Linked DNA regions of Homo sapiens: region 1 is linked to region 2. A link means that fine-mapping ties the variant in region 2 to the expression of a gene that starts in the linked region. Tissue or cell type: whole blood. Region 2 holds a variant in brackets; the other region holds the start of a gene. All regions are shown on one strand. Distances are between the middles of the regions.

The links. PIP is the estimated chance that this variant, and not a neighbour inherited with it, causes the effect.
Region 1: PTGER4 starts here. The variant in region 2 is fine-mapped to the expression of PTGER4 in whole blood (INTERVAL, PIP above 0.99).

Annotation. Positions count from the first base shown.
Region 1 is chr5:40,674,998-40,683,103 of GRCh38, reverse strand. PTGER4 (prostaglandin E receptor 4) reads right to left here and starts at 3,189. Exons shown (of 3, transcript NM_000958.3): 1 at 2,626-3,189; 2 at 1,244-2,153. The coding sequence starts at 2,110. RefSeq lists an enhancer at 1,644-2,171 and a silencer at 3,307-3,526.
Region 2 is chr5:40,343,714-40,351,825 of GRCh38, reverse strand. No RefSeq gene overlaps it. Among named protein-coding and RNA genes, the nearest start is that of LINC00604, 110 kb to the right of the region's middle. The variant CCTTT/T (reference allele first, on the strand shown) is at 3,906.

The DNA of each region.
Region 1 (8,106 bases), 330 kb before region 2:
GAATTTCCAGGAATGCAGTGTTTTGGAAGATGGAAGAACTCATAACTAGTTGCTTTCAAGAGAAACTCTAGATAAAGTATTGCATTATTCTGCCCATCTGCTTCTGGTGCATTCCATTTTAGCCACAGGCAAAGTAGAAAACTAGGTAGGGTTTGAGCCTTTCTGTTTATCATATTTTAAAAGTTAATCCAAAGGCAATTCTTAAAAGATGAACTAAAAATGAAGTGTACCAAAACTCCAACCCACGCTTTACAAACGCCAAAATGAGAAATGTTCTACGAGGGAGACGTGATGTAATAACACATGAGCTGGGTCTGGCCTCAGACGGCCTAAGGTCCATTACAAGCTGTAGAGCTTTGGCTTGAAGAAACAAAGACAGCCATCTCTAAACCTCGGTTTCTCTAAAATGGTACTGTACCTCGCACAGTTGTCGAGAATTCAAATCCCATACCCTATGTATATCAGCCTGTCCATAATTAGTCACCCTGAGAAACTTTGCTTTCCTGGTCTAGACAGAATGAAAGAAACTGAGTCTGGACCCTGCCCTGTATATGAATTAGAATTTGTGTGCTTTAAGCTGCCCTCCCAGGGCACACCATGGTAAAGAGCAGGGAGCCTAGCTTGACTGTGTAGGTTCGGCTGGATTATTTTAAGCGTATCATTCACTCCCTCAGTGAAGTGAGGGAGTTAGACTAAAACACCTCTTGATATCTCTTCTAGCTTTAAAATTCTACGCAATCCACGGGGGAAGAAATTCAAGAAACCTTGCATACATCAAAACACCAAAAACCCCACTTTCCTTAAAAATGGTTTACAACGAACAGATCACCATCCCTGACATTTCAGGTTTTGCAGTTCACAGTTCACAGTACGGAGGAATGGGCTAAGTCACACTACAGCAGGCTCCCCTCCACGTCTAACAGAGGGGGCGGGGGGTTTTCTTGGAAGACTCGGCCAGTGTCAGGCAGCAAGGGGTAAGGGCTGTCTCGGTGGAGAAAGAAACCCAGGCTTCCGGGAACATAAACTGGGGGATGTAGGGGCAAAGCACCTGCTAAATCTCGTTAGGGTTGGGACTTCAAAGAGGGTTGGGCCTGCTCTGAGAAACAGTGTGGGAATCCCAGCCCCGACCTAAAGGCGACACGTTCACTGCCAAGGACTCAGAGGGAAAGCAGGGAGCGGGGAATGGACGCGGGAGGTGGATGCGAGAAAAAGGCCGAGTAGGGCCCCAGCCCCGGTCACTCACCACGAGCGGGATGGAGCAGATGAGCACCACCAGGGAGGTGGCAATGAGTAAGATGACCATCTGGATCTCGGCGCCCGCGATGCGGCGGAAGCTCCGGCGGCGCCGAAAGTCGCTGAGGCGCGGCAAGGCTGGGGAGGCAGCGGGGTGGCCCCGGGAGGCAACCGAGGCGGCCGCGGCCGCGTGGTGCTGCTCGGTGCCCAGCGAGGTGCGGCGCATGAACTGGCGGTGCATGCGGAGCAGCGCGCCGCACACAAGCACGTTGCAGAGGACGGTGGCGAGAATGAGGAAGGAGCTGAAGCCCGCGTACATGTAGGAGTAGGCGGCGTGCGCCGTCACGTTGGTGGTCCAGTCGATGAAGCACCAGGTGTCTGGGTACTGCAGCCGCGAGCTACCGAGACCCATGTTGGGCAGCGCGCAAAAGAGCACGTTGGACGCATAGACTGCAAAGAGCGTGAGGCCCGCCAATCGCTTGTCCACGTAGTGGCTGTAGAAATAGGCATGGTTGATGGCCAGGTAGCGCTCGACACTCATGGCGCAGATGATGCTGAGGCCGGACAGGCTGAAGAAGAGCAGAATGAAGGTGCTGTACTCGCACAGCGGCTGGCCCCCGGGCCATTGGCCCTTCATGTACGTGGCGATGGTCACCGGGCTCACCAACAAAGTGCCCAACAGGTCGGTGACAGCCAGCCCACATACCAGCGTGTAGAAGGTCGTCTCCTTCTGCTCCTTGCGCGACTTGCACAGCACCACGATGGCCACCAGGTTGCCCACCACCCCGAAGATGAACATCACCGCCGGGATGGTCACTGGGCTGTTCAGCCGGTCGGGGCTCAAGGAGGCGGACGAATTGACCCCGGGAGTGGACATGATAGTGGCTGGCGGTGCGCAGCCTTGGAGTGCAAGGCTGGGTCTGGGGATGGTAGAAGAGAGACAAAGCTGCCGTGAGCGGAAATTACCACTTGTAAGGTGTTAGACCCGCGCCCGAGAAACGATACACTGATAAGACAAGGGGAGCAACTCGATCCTACTTTCTGGATTGTAGCCACTTACCAACTGCGGCCACCAAAATCTCCAGGCTCGCGATACGTCCTGCCAACAGCACACTCTTGCTGACATTAATATTTATAAACTGATTTTCCCATTCCTCTTCCTCCCCACAATCCAACTCACTCCATTGCCAAGATGAATAAGACCCATCTCAAGGGAAAAGTAGCTCGCTAGTGCTATTCTCGATAGATTCTGAATCAATAAAATGCTCACTGAAAACAAGTTACAAAAGCAATTTGGAGAGCGCGCTCTTCCCTTCTTGGCTCTCTTCGGCGAGGGCCGCATCCCTGCGTTCTCTACCCGTTGACCCCAACGTCAGCCCAACGCCATCTCACCTGTAGCGGCAGCAGCGGTGGCAGCCTCACGAGCCCCCAGGGTCAGCCCTCAGATGTCCTGGACCCGCCTCCAACCTGCTTTCACCTTGTCCTGCTCAGTCTGGAAACTGCCAAATCTTCGGCTTCTCAAAGCCGGTCTCAGTGGCTGTCGATTTTTGGACACCGAGGTCAGAGTTGCCAGCTTTCAAAAACTTGGGAAACAAGAGGTGCAGCGGGATGGGTCAGTGAAGAATGGTGCTGGATTTCTTACTCGCTATTTTTTTTCCTTCAAAGACGAGTCCCAGCTTTGCAGTGCCCGCCGGTCTCGTCTGCGGGAGGACAGCGTTCAGGTGTGAGGCTGTGCGCGCAGGTGGCGCGGAGCCTTGGTCCCCAGCTCTGGCTGCCCTCCGCCCCAGCCACGGGCAGCACGGGCGGCTACTGGAGTTTGCGGCTGCCGCTGAGGCCGCTCCTGGCTACCTGGGGGCGGCTCGGGGTCCACTCTGCCAGAGGCTCTGGCCTGGGGCTGTTCATCTTCCTCTCGGGCTGCCGGGCTTGGAGCTCCGCTCTCGCCTTTCCACCCTCTGTACAAACTTTTCTCCTCCTCCAAGTTTCCCTGGCGGAGGCGGAGGCAAACCGCGCGCTGCCCGGGCGCCCATTGGCCGGATTGGAAGGGGGCGGAGCGCGTCCTCCCTGGGCGCCGCAGGGAAGACTGGCGGGGGGCGGTGTCTGGGCTGGGGCGGGGCTGGGCGCGCGGGGTGGGGCGGCTCCCGTGGTTTTCACGCCCTCGGAGGTGCGGAGTGGGAACTCGGAGGGGACCCTGGGAAGCCCCGGTGCTTTCCCCGGCGACCGCTTAGCCGCTCCTGAACTCGGCTTCCAGTGGGGCCACCACTGAAACCGGCGACCGTTTCCGCCTCGCTGCCTGCCGCTCGGAGTGTACTATTTCTTGAACCTCCTGTCCGCGGGCCGCAACATCTAGATCGTGGAAGAGAGGGCAGTTGTTTTAGGATTCTACCTAGGGTTGGCCGAGAAAGGAGAAGAAATACGGTGTCTGCGCTAGCGCGTGCGCCCCGGGGTTAGACTTGGGTGCGCCCAGCGGACGTGGTAGGTGGGTGGGTGGGTGGGTACCAGATTGGGCGGGGAAATAACGAAGAATCCATCCTCTCACCATAAAAGGAGTTGGAGTCAGTTGGCAGTGCCCAGACTGCGGGCTGCGCTTGGTCGGGCACCCCAGGCAAAAAAGAAAAAAAAAAAAGAGAAAGAAAGAGGAGGAGACAGTGATTGCAGCCTCTCCCGGCGCAGGTGGCAGAGCCTTGCGGCTTTGGAGAGAGGTGGAGCCTTGGTGAGGTTGGGAGGACTGCCTAACTGCGATCTTTTTCTCCATTCTTCCTCCTGGGAACTTCTCCGCCCTGAAAGGGTAGCGTGAGCTTCATGCCTTCGGCCGGCCGTGTTATACTCGTTAGACCCAATTCACCATGAATCCTTTGAAAGACTAGTGGAGAGTGAGAAGGGGGTTTCAAAGTCACTGGAGTAAAGGAATTCTCCAAGCACCACCTCATGATTAATTCTTGGAAAAGCCTGTTTGCGCGGCCCTTAGAATCATTTTGACTTCTTGTCTAATGGTGAAGTTTTTCTCTGTAATCCTTCTACTCTGTTTTCTAAAACCAGAACTAAAAACCTAAAAAATTGTAAAACTTCATGGTGTAATTAAAACCCCTTCACCATTTTTTTTAAGTAAGATTGTGTGGCCTTATTGCACAATTTAAATTCCTGGAAAAACCTCTTCCCATCTGCAGTGTACAAGCATTCTAACATATTATGTCTCCTCACAGGGTAAGTAAATAACTGGATTCTTTTATGTGATAAGCAGGTACCCATTTCTTAAATGTTATTTCGTGAACGAACAAACCTCCTAACTGGTTCTTCAGTTAGTCTCAGCAACACATGGGTAATAAGAGAAACTAAAAGGGCTTTCCGATTTCAAGTAATTACAGGTCATAAAATATCCAGAATCATATTTACTTGCAAAAGGCACTATATGGATATACTAATAAAGAATTATTCTGTTTATACTATTTACTTAATAATATGAGAAAGAAAAATACACATTTGTTAGCCAATATTAAGATTGATGGTGATTGGTCATTTTCTTAAAAATCTTCTTTTAATCAGTACTCTAATCACTTCTGTTGTCGATGCTTCCTTTGAACAGTAACCTCTAGGATTGTGTCAGCACAGAAAACAAATCAACATTAGAAAAAAGGAAACTGCACACTCTGCGCCATTCCTCACTAACCACATTGCTTTGCTATCACTCATGTCAGTTGCTTGTCAGTAAATATATGGAGGGGAGGTTGGGAAGTCCCTTATATTCACTTTCTGCTAATACAAATTTTTTTTTTCAATTTTCTTTCCATATGAAGCTTGTAAAAGAGAAAACAATTGGTTGCTATTTATTAATTTAAGAATGATGAAGAATATATTAAATATAAAAACTGAGACACACTGCTGAGATAATTAGTAACTGTTACAGGTATTAGCATGTCATTGACAAACCAGACTTGTTATCAATTGAGCTATTTTTCTTACTAGTCCTTTGAATTTTCTTTCTACAGTAGCTTTAGGAAGAAGGAAAATAAATAACCTAATGCTCAATACTAAAAAATTGTAATGAGGTTTATCTGTAGTCTCTTTTGTTGTACGATTCTTAAAACTTAAATTTAGCTTTCAAAAGTAGAAGTTGAAAGTTTAGGTAGCAAATTATTTTATTTTCTTAGTTTGAAAAACTGGGACAGTGGAGCTCAGTTTCTCTTACACTCTGCCAGGAATTTGCATTGCAAAAGGAAAGGAAAAATTGCCATAATTATGTGGGCAATTCTTGTCATTTTTTTTCAATGAAAAGATTTTTATTCTAAGCACTTTAAAAATTCTCCCTCGCAGTTTCTGCCACAATCCCTACTTCTCTATGCTGGAAGACCCCAGTTCAGTTATTTAAAACTGTCATTAAATAACTCTCTGAAGGTTTGAACTACTCCAAGAACTGTTTGATCAGTTTGATTGCTCTGTTATAGCTAATTATTTGACGAGTTTTTTGAGTAAACATATTAAGGTGGGAACCCATTTATAAACAAAGGCCGCTTGGGAGCTAGTAACCACTTTTAGTTTTCCTTGGATCAAAGGAAATATGGGACAGACAGGACCTGGGCTCAGCCAGCAGGAGTGGGGTGAGAAAGGGGATCATTTCCAGGAGGAAGGCAGCAGGATGAGTCAGATCTGGCCTGGACCCCTTCCTGAGCCGCAGCTGGCAGGATCTTAGAGCATTCCTGAAGCACTAATATTCATGTAGCAAAGCCTGTGCAAATTGTGTTTGCTTTTCTCTTTCATGACAGGCCATGCAGAGACTCAAAACAGTGTGAAAGGCATCTATCAGGTACAAATAGCAAAGTACCCTTGGACACATTTGCCCTCCACAGGCTCTTCCAGTTGGTTTAGTGGATTACAAACATGGCATTCACCTGACCCTAAGATGACTGCCTTCCCTTTTTAGTGGTACATTTCAAATGTGTGCCCTCTTAATTATTTTCATTTTCTAAGCATGAAGTTTATGCTGAGCCCAATGCCTGGAGCTGACACATGTCAGTGCTGTGATTAACTCCCCAACATCTTCATGTGGTGATAAATTACTGCTGTGGAGGCTGGCCCCTACTGAGTGATTGCTTCAGGCTGCTCTGACAGCCTGCTCTGACAATTACACTCCTCAAAGTAATAGCTTTCTGCTCTTTTATTCTGCTCGCTCCCTTTTTTTCCCTCCAGTTTCACCACACGCCCATGTGGATTGGACCAATGGGCAAAGAAAGGAGATTATTTACCTGCAGTGGCCTTTTTTTTTTTTTTTTTTGAGACAGATTCTCGCTCTGTCGCCCAGGCTGGAGTGCAGTGGTGCAACTTGGCTCACTGCAACCTCCGCCTCCTGGATTCAAGCAATTCTCCTGTCTCAGCCTCCCTAGTAGCTGAGATTACAGGCATGTGCCACCTTGCCTGGCTAATTTTGTATTTTTAGTAGAGATGGGGTTTCACCATATTGGCCAGGCTGGTCTCGAACTCCTGACCTTGTGATCCACCCCCTTCGGCTTCCCAAAGTGCTGGGATTACAGGCGTGAGTCACCGCTCCCAGAGTGGCCCATTTTTGAAGATACAAGTGGAGAAATAAAGCCTTACTAGTTAAAGAGTCTCCCCTACAGGAGGAAGGACCTTCTGATTATATTTCGGTTTCTTCTCATACCCAAATTGCTGTATGTTTTAGCAATGTGGAGGATGCACAGAAACTCCCTGGCTTAATCAATAGCAGCAGCATCACCTGTAGCTCATGTTAGTTTATCACTTTCCATAGCAGTTTCACACTTGGCGTTCACATGCGCTTTTATTAGCAACCCTCTGAGGAGGTTAGGTAGGTGTGACAGAGTCTGCTGTGTTGCACCAAATCTTGTTTCCATTTCCTCTGGAACACATAGCTGCGTATTATTTCCCAAACTGACTTCTTGTGGTTAGGTGCAGCTCATGTGACTGAATTCTGGCCAATGGAATAGAGGTAGAATTGATATATGCCACTTCCAGGCTGGGTCCCTATAAAACCCAGTCCTTTGTGCTATTGTTCGTCCTCTGCCAACATAATACAGGTCCCGGGTATATGGCAGAGCCACTAGATAGAAGGTGACTTGGCCTCTGAGTGCCTGTATGGACCTCATTCCAATCCCAGCAACCCTCACTGGACAATGAAGTGAATGAGAAATAATGCACTGAGATTTGAGGGGTCCCTTGTTTCAGCAGTTAGCCTATGCTGACTAATTTAGTATGGTTGATGTAATCTTCCTTCAGTGAGTGAGAATGTGGGCACAGAGATTCTATGTGGCTTGCTGAGAGTCACAAGAATTAGTAAGAATAGCTGAAATTTATCCAATGCTCAGCCTATGTGAGACATCATGCTAACTGCAACATGCATACGCTGTCAAATTCTCACAGCAAACCTATGAGGAAGGTACTAGGCAGTCAGATGCCCATTTCACAGATGAGCAAATCAAAGTTTGGTTAACGAATGCTGGGAGTGTTTTTTTTTTTCTTTTTTTTTGTGGCAGGGTCCCAATCTGTCCCCCAGACTGGAGTGCAGTGGGGCGATCTTGGCTCACTGCAACCTCCACCTCCTGGGGTCCAGTGAACCTCAGCTTCCCAAGTAAGCCGGGACTACAGGCAGGTGCCACTATGCCTGGCTAATTTTTGTATTTTTTTGTGGAGATGGAGTTACCCCATGTTGCTCAGGCTGGTCTCGAACTCCTGGGCTCAGGCGATCCACAAGCCTCCACCTCACAAAGCGATGGGATTACAGGGGTTAGCCACCACACCCAGCCCAGGTGTTGTCAGTTTTGAAAGGCTGCCCAGCAGCTGAACTCCTTTTCTATTAGTAAGAATCCTCCATTGCATAATATTATTTGGAGGCAAGACCTAGCCTGC
Region 2 (8,112 bases):
TTTCAGTAATACGTTTATTAGGAGTGGTGAAAGTGGGCATCCTTGTCTTGTTCCAGTCTTAGAGAAAATGCTTTCAACTTTTCCCCATTCAGTAGGATGTAAGCTGTGGGCTTATCATATATGGCTTTTATTATAATGATTTTTATTAAAATTTTTTATGAGTCTATTGAGATGATCATATGGTTTTGTCCTTCATTTTGTTGATGTGATGTATTACATTTATTGAAAATTCTACCTTATTATAGTGTATTATCTTATTTATGTGCTGTTGGATTCAGTTTGCTAGTATTTTGTTGAGGATTTTTGTGTTTGTGTTCTTCAGGGATATTGACCTGCATGTTTTTGTTTTGGCATGTCCTAGTTTGGTTTTAGTATCACGGTAATACTGGGCAAGTAAATTGAGTTGGGAGGAATTATCTCTTTGCTGTTTTGGAATAGTTTCAGGAGGATTGACATTAGTTCTTCTTTGTACATTTGGTAAAATTTGGTTATGAATCCATCGGTCCTGGACTTTTCTTTGCTGGGAGACATTTTTTATTACTGATTCAATTTCACTTTTCGTTATTGGTATGCTCTGGTTTTCTCTTTCTTCTTGATTCATCTTAGTAGGTTGTATGTTTCCAGGAATTTATTTCCTCTAGGTTTTCCAGTCTGTCAGTGTGTAGTTGTTCATAGTAGTCTTTGATGATCTTTCGTATTTCTGTGGTATCAGTTGTAATGTCTCTTTTTTTTCATTTCTGATTTTGTTTGTTTGGGTCTTCTCTCTTCTTTTCTTGATTAATCTAACTACTGGTTTATTAATTTTGTTTCTTTTCAAAGAACCAACTGTTAATTTCATTGATTCTTCGTATTTTTATTTTTAATTTCTATTTAATTTAGCTCAGTTCTGGTCTTTATTATTTCTTTTCTTCTGCTAATTTTGCATTTGGTTTGTTCTTGCTTTTTAGTCACTTGAAATGCACTCTTAGATCGTTAGTTTCTCATCTTTCTACTTTTTTTGAAATTGGTGTTTATTGCTGTAAACTTCCCTTTTAGCACTGCTTTTGCTGTGTCCCACAGGTTTTGGTATACTGTGTTTCCATTTTTATTTGTTTCAAGAAATTTTTTGATTTCCATCTTGAAATATTTTTGTTGACCCAGTGGTCATTCAGAAACATGTTGTTTAATTTCCTGTATTTGTATAGTTTCAAGCTTCCCTTTGTATTGATTTCTGGTTTTATTACATTGTAGTGTGAGAGGATACTTCATGATTTTGACTTTTAAAAGTAATTATGTCTTGTTTTGTGGCCTAACATATGGTCCATCCTGGAGAAAGTGTTGACGAAAAGAATGTATATTTTGAAGCTGTTGGATAGAATGCTCTGTAAATGTCTGTTAGGTCCATTTGGTCTAAAGCCCTGTTTAAATCCATGGGATTTAAAACCCCTGTCTGCCAGGGTTTTCTCTGTACGTTATTAAATAGCTTTCTCTTGGTGTTTTTAGGATTTTCTCTTTAACTTTGACTTTAGACATTCTGATTTTAATGTGCCCTGGGGAAGATTTTTTGTATTTATCTATCTGGGGATTGAGCCTCCTGAATATAAATGTCTAAACCTCTTGCTAGACTTGGGATGTTTTCATCCATTATTTTGTTAAATATGTTTTCTGATCCTTTCCTTGTTTCTTCATTCCCAGGGAGGCAATAATTTGTATATTCAGTCACTTTATGTTGTCTCAAATGTCACAATGGCTTTGCTTATTCTTGTTTTTCCTTTTTTCTTCTTTTTTCAGTTTGGATTATTTTAAAAGATGTCTTCAAGTTATGAGGCTCTGTCTTCTGTGTAACCTAGTCTATTGTTGAAGCTTTCAAATGTATTTTGGATTTCCTTCAATAAATTCTTCAGTTCAGGAATTTCTATTTGATTCTTTTAAAAATATCCATCTTTTCAGTATAATTCTCACTCATAACCTGAACTATATTTCTGATTTATATTTCTGATTTTTTGTACTGTTTTTCAGAATTCCCTTGGATCTCACTGAGTTTCTTTAAAATCAATGTTTTTAATTCTTTATCTGGGGTTTTGAAAATTTCATTTTGATTAAGATCTATTCCTGGAGAATTATTGTGTTCCTTTGCAAGTGTTATATTTCCTTGCTTTTTCATTCTTCATTTGTTCTTACATACATTGACATTTACGCATTTGTTGTTAACAGTCGGTTCTTACTATTTTTGAATATACTTTCATTGAGGGAGGATCTTTTTCCAAAGATGTATCTATGGTGTTGGTTGGATAAGTTACTCTGGCTCTGATTCTGGACATGTTCGGTAGTGTAGTCTCTCTGTATGATTTCTTTGATATTAGTGGTGTCTTTGATTCACTTGGTGGGTTAGGGTGTGGCTATTACGGAGGCTATGGTAAAGTTGTTCTGGAGACTAGGATACCAGGTGGGCTGGTCCTCAGGCCCCAGTAGTGGCAGCCATAGGCTGAGTGTGCCTACCTTTGTGCCCCAGTGGCACCTGTGTTGGCAGTTACTGGTGGGTCTATTCTTGGGTCTCTAGGTGGCATGCTCAAATGCTGATAATGACGCAGTGGACTGGGCAGGCTGGTAAGTACTCACGTCCCTGACAGCTGGTGTGGATTGGGTGATAATAGTGGCAATGGTGGGAAAATTCTCTGGGTCTCAAGTGGTATGTGTTGCTGTTGGCTATGGCTGTGAGGGGTTGGGTGAGCGAGTCTACAGGCCCACAAGTGGAACTTGCAGGTGGGTGGCAGCTGAGGTGGTAGCAGCTGGGAGGTTAGGTCTGACCTTAGGCCCCCAGGAGGAGTGCTCAGGTACCCAAGATGGTGGATTAGTGATCCCCAGAACCTCAGGCTATGTGCACTGTCCTGAGGGGGCCAAAGCTGGGCTGCATGAGCTTGTGCTTAGGTGTGCCCCCAACCCCCCACCATGGTGAAAGTGGGCACCAGATGTGGAGGGCCAGGGTGGGGTGATCTTCAGGTCCCAGGAGCAGTGCTTGGAATAAAGGGCAATAGCAGAAAAGCTGAGGCACTGCCATGGCAGAGATTGGGGCCTCCCTCAGTGGTCTCAGCTGATATGTGGGCGACGTGGATCTCATTCACACCCCAGTCCCTTCAGGGCTTGTCTCTTGCTCTGGCTACAGGAGACTACGCCCAGTTTATGACCAAGTCCCAGTGGCAATTCACACTATGCTCGCATCCCCATCTTAGATCTCAGCAGCTAAGCACTTGCTTCCCATGACTGGAAACTGCTGCCTACTCCTTGCTTGCTTTCTAGCCCTGGCGGTGGCAGTGCTCCAGGCTTGCTCTGCTGTCCCAGCAATGACAGCTTGGGTTTCAGTAATGCCTCATTCCCAGTGCCCCTGGGTCCCAGAACAGTGTGCAGTACCAGAGCTAGTTTTGAAAATGACAACTTGCTGTAGCTGCATAGGTCTTAGAAAGGGTGTGAGATACCGTATGAGCTCCCTCCCTGGAGGAGTTCCATCCCACAGTCTCCCAGCAGCTTCCTACGTTATTTCAGGGGTTGAGAGAAATGAGGGCATCTCCGTAGGCCAGAATTGCGTGATTGCATGGTGGGGATGTGGGCTGCTGGAAGTCTTTTACTCATCCCTTCCCTGTGTTGAGAAGTCACTCCAGGCTTGCAGCCAATCCCGGCCAGGGAGGTTGCCTCTTCTCCCATCCGCCCCACCGACTCCCACTTTTGGTGCCTCCTGTCACTTCCCTGTTGAATTCAGTGTTCTCTCTTGGAAAATAAACTCAAAGTGTAACTATCTATGCACTACACTACTCTAGTTCTTCTAAGTTTAGCAGCAGGCTTAAAATGCTTCTAATCAGCCATCTTCAACCCCCGCCCTCCTTGTCTCTAGTTTGCTCCTTCCTTCCTTTTCTTTCCTTCCTTCCTTCCTT[CCTTT/T]CCTTTCCTTTCTTTCTTTCTTTGCTTTCTTTCCTTTTTTTTCTTTCTGCCTCAGAGCCTATGCACATGCTTTTTTCTCATCTGAAATGTCCTTTGTTGCTTTTTTCCTGTCTCCTTATTCGCAGCTTGACCTTGCCTAGGTTTGTTTGTCCTTCATATTTCAGAATATGTGCTATTTTTTCCCCCAGAGGAATCTTGCAAAACCACCTCAGTTACATACTATCAAAAATTTGTAGTTCTTCTTCATAGCGTGTATTTAAATAAGCAATTCTGTAATTGGTTCTTCAATGTCTGGATTCACCTCTGTGAAGATAGAAACGATCTTCTTTCGGTTTAGCAATATGTTCCTAGTGCCTAACAGAGTGTTTTAACCCATAGTCAGCACTCAACAAATAATGATTGAATGAATGAATGAATTAGTAAATAATTAAACACGAATGTGAGGTACAAAGATGAAACGTCAATTTTCCCTGATACTTCTATGATTGAATTTAGAAAATTGGAGGCACTGCACTAGTTTTAAAAACTCTACTCATAGTAAACTGCTGTCTACTTCTTGTTGTGAAAATCTATTTTAACATGGTTTGGGTTTTTAGATTTAGGTGTGATACACAATATCTCCTCCTTTTTTGTGTGTGTCAGCCTCTAGAAGGGAACTCTATCCTGGATGAGGAAGAATAAACTTGGCTCGTGATATAAAAAATTTGGTACAGTGAACTATGAGATAGTTGCAGGGGCTTGCCCACAAATATCTGCAAATTCCATGTGTTCATATATTGCAATAAAACTACCTCCCCTCTGGGAGCTGGCTAAGAAAAAATTTAGTATTTAATGAAAAGTTGGCTCAATAAGTAATACTTTCCAAATCAGAAAATAAAACTTTAAGAGGAAGAAATGTGGATAACCATTCCATGTGACTGTAGACATTAGGACTTGGCTTGAAGGCAACTTTTATTACATAAGCCTGTTTGGGAGTACAATTAGTGAAAAGGGATATAATATGAAATTTTAATAATTTTCTGTATTAACATTTCTAGTTATTAGTATAATGATCAACACTTATCCATCTACTAAACTGTTTAGGCAAGATATAAACATATTGTTTTTCTTTTTTTTCAATGAAAGTAGAGGGAGGGACATAGATAAAAAGAAAGCAGATGTTTTAATTTTTGTAAAAAAAAAACCAGCAATAATCTGGGGTTGGTTAGCTTCATGACTATCCATCTTAAGGACATGGTTTGCCAGTAAAGTGTAAATGCTCTTGGAGCTGTTTGGAGAACTCCATGGAATATCATGTCATAACCTCATAATGCCTGGTTGCTATGTGCGTCTGTCTTAATCATAATCTAGGTGCTACTGGGTCAACCACACTATCAATACAGATGTGCAGTTGAGTATAGAAGTAATGCTTCCTCGGTAATTAATCTTTTAATTTTTCTGCATAATGTGGAAAACAGAATACTTTGATGTGATACCTCAGTAAATAAATGCCAATGTATGTTCTTTTATTTTTTCCATCATAAAAATATCACAACATTAAAGATTGCCTCCCAAATAATACCCATAGTCTCACTATCCTAATAAAACTAATTTCCTGTTTACATTTAAAAATTATGCTGCATATGTCTATACTTAGTTGAACATTATATAATGATTTCATCCTACTTCATCAAATCATTGTGTAATAATTTATTTCCCATTTATTTAGTGTACAGGTGTTTTTTTCTACTTTTTCCTGGTATAGATATAATGCCCAGCTTCTGTTGATTACTTTCTTAAATTAATTTCTTAGATTATGATTTGAATAAAGGAGTATAACATTAGTAATAAATGCAGGCAAGAAAAAGACAGCCTTTCTACCAGTTACCTTAAGGCAGTAGAATGAGTCCCTGAGATGAGAAATATCTATAGCAGCTTATCTGTACTTACGTTTTGCTGTTTGGCACATTGTACTTTCAAGTACAGTGATAGTTTTTGTTCATGTCCTATCTCTGGTTCTATATTATAAACTCTAGAGGGCAGGATCTTATCTTATTCATCTTCATATCTTACACAGTTCTTGACCTACTACCTTCCATATCGTACCCACTCAATAAATATTTGTGAAATAATTGAAGAGAGTTAGTAGTAATTACACTAATTTAGTGTTTAAAGTTAGATTTAAAAAATTTCCAATAGTATACTTTGATTTAATTGTACCTATCTATTTTTTCTAATGGCATCCATTAATATTTTTAAGGTCAATATTCAGTTTGGTGAATCATTTCTATATAAATGCCTCTAAATTACATATGTTTCATTCACTTAACCATGGTTAGCATTTAATTTTTATATTATCAGATTCTGTGTGACACTAAGAAAAGAAAAATATTTAGGGCACCACTAAAATAACCACTGGTGAATCAGGGGATGGGATTTTGGCATATTTCTTAGAAAAGAAATAATGCCCACATATTTCATATGAGCTAGTAGATATGTGCTATATCAGGGAATATTGTAGAGTTCATGAACTTGGCATGGCCACAGAAAATTATTTATCATATCACATAATGTAATATGAACAAATTTCTAGTGCAAATTCAGTTAACAAATAGAATCAGCTAGAAGACATACTGAATATCCATGATACAATTTAAAATAGAAACATAGATCGTTTGGAGAAAATTTCTAGCTGTTAAGTGTTATCTTCCTTGCATTTTACTAATAGAACCCTTTTTCCCATTAATAGTTACGTTCTATGTAACAAATTGTGTGTTCTTCTCTGACAGCCTGACCTCCTGAGATTCCTTCCCTGTTGTAAGAATTATGGCATCTCTAATATTAAAATTATTGAGAAATTAGAAAAACAAAACCTGTTAGCTGTAATGAAAAAAGATGACAGAAAAGGGGCATAACTTTTCACTTGAGGATGTAACTCTTTGTACATTATAGAAAAATACACATAAAAATTCAGGACATAATACTAATTCCCACCCTACCCCCCCCCTGCAATAGTAAGCTATTCTATGGAAAACAGAAAAGCAAAACAAGAGAAATGAAAAACATTTTACACAAATGGGATCATACGGTATGTGTTTTTTTGTGCCTGGCTTTTATCACTTAACAGAATATTTTCAAGTTTCACCCATATTGTAGCACATATCAGTACTTCATTTATATTTATTGCCAAACAATATTTCAAGGTATGGATATATTTATTATATGGAGATGTATATATATATTTTTTCATTGTATGGATATATATATATTAATTGTATGGATATATATATTTATTGTGTATTTTTTGTTTTTTTGTTTATCCATTTATAAGTTGATAGATAATTGGTTGCTCCCAATTTTGAGCTATTATGAATAGTGCTTCTATGAAAATTTATGTGCAGGTTTTTATATGCACTGTTTTTCCCTATTTTCTCTGGATAGATATTTTAGCACAATTTCCATTAGAAGTAGTGAGAGTGGACATCTTTATCTTTTTCTTCTTCTTGGCAGAAAATTATTTAGTTTTTCTACATTAAGTATGATATTAGCTGTGGATTTTTCATAAATTTTCTTTTTCAAGTTGAAGTTTTCCTTTATTTGAGGTGTTTGTCATGACAACTGGATTTTTTTAAATGCCTTTTCTTCATCTATCGAGATATTTTTCTCTTCATTCATTAATATAGTGTATTACATTAACTAATTTTAGAATGTTAAACTAAGCCTTATGCTTCTGGGATAAAATTTCTTCTTGGTCATGGTGTGTGGTTTATAATTTCTTAAATATGCTACTGGATTTGATTTGCTAGTATTTTGTTAAGGATTTTTGCATCTGTATTGATAAAGAATATTGATCTGTAGTTTTTTTAATGTCAATCTGATTTTGCTATCAGGATAATACTAGCCCTATAAAATAAATTAAGAAGTGTTTATATCTATGCCATTTTTAAAAAGAGTTTGAGAAGGATTGGTGTTAATTCCTCTTTAAATATTTAGTAGAATTCACTAAGAAGCCATATGGCCCTGGGCTTTTCTTTGTTGGAAGTTTTTTGATTACTGATTCAATCCCTTTAACTGTTATAGGTCTGCTCAGATTTTTTGTTTCTTATTGAGTCAGTTTTGGTAATTTGTGTTTTTGTAGTAATATTTCCATTGCATATTAGTTATCTAATTTGTTGGCATACATTTATTTATGACATTATCTTATACGTTCTTTTTACTTCTGTA